Linked DNA regions of Homo sapiens: region 1 is linked to region 2. Evidence: fine-mapped expression QTL. A gene starts in region 2. The other region holds a variant in brackets. All regions are shown on one strand. Distances are between the middles of the regions. Region 1 overlaps FANCA (FA complementation group A). Region 2 holds the start of FANCA (FA complementation group A).

What was found.
Region 1: its variant is fine-mapped to the expression of FANCA in whole blood (TOPMed, PIP above 0.99).

The regions. Positions count from the first base shown.
Region 1 is chr16:89,760,352-89,762,851 of GRCh38, forward strand. It overlaps FANCA (FA complementation group A), which reads right to left. Exons shown (of 43, transcript NM_000135.4): 29 at 1,598-1,671. Among named protein-coding and RNA genes, the nearest start is that of ZNF276, 40 kb to the left of the region's middle. The variant T/A (reference allele first, on the strand shown) is at 1,119.
Region 2 is chr16:89,815,513-89,818,519 of GRCh38, forward strand. FANCA (FA complementation group A) reads right to left here and starts at 1,135. Exons shown (of 43, transcript NM_000135.4): 1 at 1,025-1,135; 2 at 365-474. The coding sequence starts at 1,103. RefSeq lists silencers at 639-688, 919-1,208 and enhancers at 1,069-1,363, 1,749-1,798.

The sequences.
Region 1 (2,500 bases), 55 kb before region 2:
TATTACTTCCATTGGTTTCATCCAGAATCTGATACCAGGATCCAGGTGCAGGCGACAGTGCTGCATGTGCCTGGAAGGCCCCTGATGGCCGGAAGGACGAGGAGCACAGGGTGGCTGTTGCCAACCCTCTCCTGAGTCTAGGTGTGGCAGGCACCCTGAGGCCCATATACCCACCAGGATACTCCATATCTGCAGTGACCACATTCCCCTCTCCCTGACCTCCACCCTAAACTCCACACCCTTAAACCCAACGGTCCTCTGGGCTCCCTACTCCTATGCCCAGAACAGCACATCTGGCCTCTCAAATAGTCTCAAATGGTCTCAGTCATCAGCCCTGGGACTCATGGGGGTTCACTGCTTCATTTACCCACTTCTTGGTGCCCCCAAGTCAAGGCTGGCATCACTCCTCAAAGTCTGCACCACCTGCTCCACACCAGCCTCTGCTCCTGCCTGGTCATTTCCTCTCACACGGCCCTGTCTGTTATCTCCAGGGCTCATTCCTACCTTTAATCCACTTCTGTATCTACCTGTGTGTTGCCAGGGCCTGGACACAGGTGTACAGCTCCCGGACAGCAGCCATAGCCCAGCCAGGGTAGGGTGAAGTCTAAGTGGGTGCCTTATACGTGCCACATCTGCCCTCATTGATACAAAGGTGCCATATGGGCAGGCTTGTTTATTCCCCTCTATACTCCCTGCTTCTAGAACACTCTAGAATTGTCTGCCACATGGTAGGAGCTCAGTAAATGTTTCTTAAATAAAGGAATAACAACCGAAATTGGGCAACCTGGCCAGGCGCGGTGGCTCACGCCTGTAATGCCAGCACTTTGGGAGGCCAAGGCAAGTGGATCACGAGGTCAGGAGATTGAGACCACCCTGGTTAACACGGTGAAACCCCGTCTCTACCAAAAATACAAAAAATTAGCTGGGTATGGTGGCGGGCGCCTGTAGTCCCAGCTACTCGGGAGGCTGAGCCAGGAGAATGGCGTGAACCCGGGAGGTGGAGGTTGCAGTGAGCCGAGATCGCGCCACTGCATTCCAGCCTGGGTGACAGAGCAAGACTCTGTCTCAGAAAAAAAAAAAAAAAAAGAAAAACAGAAATTGCCACCGCGTGGAAGCTT[T/A]ACTTTCGCTTTTGCTTTAATAAATCTTGCCACCGAAAAAAAAAAAATTGAAATTGTGCTCAAAGATTAACAGGTAAACCAAACATTAAATTGAGGATAAAATGACGAAACATAGGCTTTAAGGCAATGTGGAAAACCGTGTAACATTTTAAAGGGAAGCTCCTTTTTCTTTTGAGATAGGGTCTCACTCCGTTGCACAGGCTAAAGTGCAGTGGTGTGATCTCAGCTCGCTGCAGCCTCTACCTCCCAGGCTCAAGCAATGCTCCTGCTCAGCTTCCCAAGTGGCTGTGATGACTGGAACGTGCCGCATGTCCGGCTAATTTCTTTTCTATTTTTTGTAGAAATGGAGTTTCCCCATGTTGCCCAGGCTGACCTCAAACTCCTGGATTCAAGAGATCTCCTGCCTCAGCCTCCCAAAGTGCTGGGATTATAGGTGTGAGCCATCATGCCTGGCCAGGGTAGCTCTTTTCAACACTTACCGTTCAGTATCTGAAAGAGCATCAGCTTCAGGTTGAATTTCCAGCTCCAGGTGTAACCAGTCTTGGTAAGTTAACTGAGAAAGAGAGCAAGCAATTCAATACAATGAGGACAGAACACACAATCCACCGACAGGTTTATAAACCAGTTTGTCATTTCATCTCATACGCAGTCCTCCATGTCCCTGTGTTATAATGAAATTGCAGCTGAGAGTTCCACAGGAAAGAAACCTTAGTTTTATCAAGAATGATTTCTTACAGGATTTCCCTAGCACAAAGATGTTAGTACTGTAATCCTTCTTTCTAAGTATAAAACGGCTATTTTAGTCTGGGCAACATAGTAAGACCTCATCTCATTTAAAAATTACCTGGGCACGGTGGCTCATGCCTGTAATCCCAGCACTTTGGGAGGCTGAGGCCAGCAGATTGCTTGAGCCTAGGAGTTTGACACCAGCCTAGGCAACATGGTGACACCCCGTCTCTACAAAAGATTTAAAAATCAGCCAGGTGTGGTGGCACATGTGTGTGGTCCCAGCCTCTTGGGAGGCTGAGGCAGGAGGATCTCTTGAGCCCAGGAGGTCAAGGCTGCAGTGAGTAACAGAGTGAGAACTATCTATAAAAAGGAAAAAAAAAAAAAAGAAAAAAGAAACTAACAAAACAACAACATTCTACAGCTATTCACAGTAGCATACCTTCATTTATTTTTGGAAACAGGTTCTGTTGCCCAGGCTGGAGTGTGTGCAGTGGTGCAATCGTAGCTCGCTGCAGACTCTGCCTCCTGAACTCCAGAATTCTCCCCCTCAGCCTCTCAGATGGCTGGGACTGCAGGTGCACATCACCATGACCAGCTAAGTTTTTTAAAAACATTTTTAGGAGGCCGAGCACGGTGGCTCATGCCTGTAATCC
Region 2 (3,007 bases):
ACCCAGCTAATTTTTGTATTTTCAGTAGAGACCGGGTTTCACTATGTTGGCCAGGCTGGTCTCGAACTCCTGACCCTGAGTGATCCACCCGCCTTGGCCTCCCCAAAAGCTGGGATTACAGCCCTGAGCCACGGCGCCCGGCCTGTTTTTTTGTTGTTGTTGTTTTGTTTTTAATAAAAGAGGCGGGGTCTCACCCCGTTGCCCAGGTTGGTCCAGAACTCCCGGGCTCAGGCGACCCTCCCCTCTGCGGGCCAGGCCACCGCGCCCGCCGCCTCGGGTGTTTTCTTAGGAAAGCTGTGCGGTGGCTGGACTCAAAAACCCCGAACCTAAATCTGCCCGCAGACGGACACCAGCTTCCTCTTACCTCAAGCAAAAGGGCATTCAGGTCCTGATGGCTTCGCAGGAGGCGCACAGCTGATTCCTTTAATTTCTGTGCCCTTTCAGGATTATATTTTTCCCTCTTGACCCTTCCCGCTACGGAGAGAAGTCGGTTCGAAACCATCACAGCACAATTCACACACGGGGTCCCCGGCCCGACGCGCAGGTGGACGCCGCGGAGAAACCCACCAGCGACACCCTCCCGAAGAGGGGCCGGGGCTCCTCCCCAGGGCGCAGGTCTCGGGAAACTAACGGAGACGGCCCCACCGCGGACGCCGGGGAAGACGGCCCAGGAGGGCCCGAGGCAGGGGAGCCCGGGGACGGCTGGCGAGGGGCGGCCTCTGCGCTGAGGGGAGCCCCAGGCCGCGCACCCCAGGCCCGCCTGACAGGGCGGCCGGCGGGGGCGGCGTTCGGGAAAGAAGGGAGCGCCCCGCGGGCGGCGGCTGGGGGCGTCCGCCCAGGCGCAGGAGGGGCCGGGTCCGAGGCAGCCGCGCCGCCCCAGCCGGGCGCCCACCCCGCACAGCCCCCCGGGCGCGGCGTCCGGGGATCCGACCGGCGGAGGCTCTGGCGGGAAGGGATCGGGGAACCGGCGAAACCGTCCCGGGCCGGACGCCGCCCACTCCCGCGGCCTGCCGCGCCCACCTACCCAGCAGCTCGGCCCAGGCCCTCCGGCGGCCCCCTGGGTCCTGGCCCGAGGCGGAGTTCGGGACCCACGAGTCGGACATGGCCTTGGCGCCTACAGCCCCGGCGGCGGCTCCCTGCGCCCGAGCCCGCGCTGCCTTCCTATTGGCTGCGGCCAGGCGCGCACACCCGTTGGCTGGCGGCGGCCAGGCCACGCCCCTCAGGTCGAGGCCTTGCGTCGTGGCCATGTTGGTCCTGGGGGAGGCGCCTGCGCGCGGTGAGGTAGTTTTTGCGTTTGGCTTTGCCGCCGCGGTGTAGTCCGCGGGGGCGTCTCGCGCGGGCAGACTGCCGCCCCTCAAGCGTGGTTCCTGCCGGGAATGACTGGGGTTGGTCCTGAAGAGACCACCTGGCCAACCAAGCCGAGGCAGGCTCAGAGCGCCGCGGGGAGCGCAAAGCCGCGCGCGCCTCTGAGCTCCGGGCAGCCGCTGTTCCTCCCGGCGGCCGAACGGTCCGCGCGCAGGGCGGTGTTTCGGCAGCCGGAGACCGCGCGGTAGCCGCGCCTGTATTCCCAGCGCTTTGGGAGGCCGAGGCTGGAGGGTCGCTTGAGCCCAGGAATTCCAGACTAGCCTGGGCAACAGAGCGAGACCCCATCACTTTTGTTTCTTTTCTTTTTTTTTTTTTTCCTTTTTTTGAGACGGAGTCTCCCTCTGTCGCCCAGGCTGGAGTGCAGTGGCGCGATCTCGGCTCACTGCAACGTCTGCCTCCTGGGTTCAGGTGATTCTCCTGCCTCAGCCTCCCGAGTAGCTGGGATTGCAGGTGCGCGCCACCACGCCTGGATGATTTTTGTTATTTTTAGTAGAGACAGCGTTTCGCCATGTTGGCCCAGGCTAGTCTCGAACTCCGGACCTCAGGTGATCCGCCCGCCTCGGCCTCCCAAAGTGCTGGGATTACAGGCGTGAGCCACCGCACCCGGCTGAGACCCTATCTTTTAACCAGCCTGGGCGGCAGAGCGAGACTCTGTCTCAAAACAAAACCAAACATAAGAATTCGTAAAAGCGAGTGCCTAGGCGAAGCTAATGTGCCTCAAAGTCCTGGGTAAGTAGAGGCCCTGGAGACCCGTCCGCATCCTCTGGCAGTGGCCTTGGAACCACCGAAGGGATTCAGCCGAAGGGCCGCGTTCCCGGCAGGCGTCTTTATTGTGTTGATTACGTAGATGGCGTAGATGACGTAGATGACGTTCAGCACCACAAACGAAGAGCCGAGGCACAGAGTGGGGCCTTGGATTCATGAGATGGGGATGGAGCAGAAATGAGAATTCGGAGTCCATGAAACCCCCACAAAGACTCCTGCACGGCCCGACTCGGACACTTTGCAATCTGCTGGTTGAGGGGGATGGTGTGAACTCAGGGAACAGCCTGAGATCGCGCCGCTGCACTCCAGCCTGGGCAACAGAGCAAGACCCTGTTTCAAAAACAAAAAATAACACTAAGCAATTAACAGGACTAGACTCAGAGGTGATCGAGAAATTGAAACAGGCTGGAAATTTAAATTAACTGTGATTAATATGTGGAGGTCTCTTGTACGAAAGGTGAACAATATGCATGAGGAGGAAACTCATCAAATTATAAGAAAGGAAGAACGCTGATAACAGGTAATTTTTCTGATGGGGCAGCAGTAGGATCAACACAGCTGAGAAAAATAGGAATTACCCACGTTGGAAAATAAAGAAGAAAAAAAGTTTTTTTTTAAAAAAAGCATCCAAGAACTGTGGGAAAATATCAAATGATATCATATGCATGTAATAGGACTCCCAAAAGAAGAAGAAAGAACAAATCATAAAAAATGTTTGAAGAGAAAATTACCAATAATTTTCCCAAAATAATGAAAGACCTGAGCTCAGAGCACACACAAAACTTGATAAATATGAGCCCCTGCCTGACACATGCAGTGTATTCAAACTGTGGAAATCAGAGAGAAAACCATGAAGATGGCCGGAGGAAAAAGATAC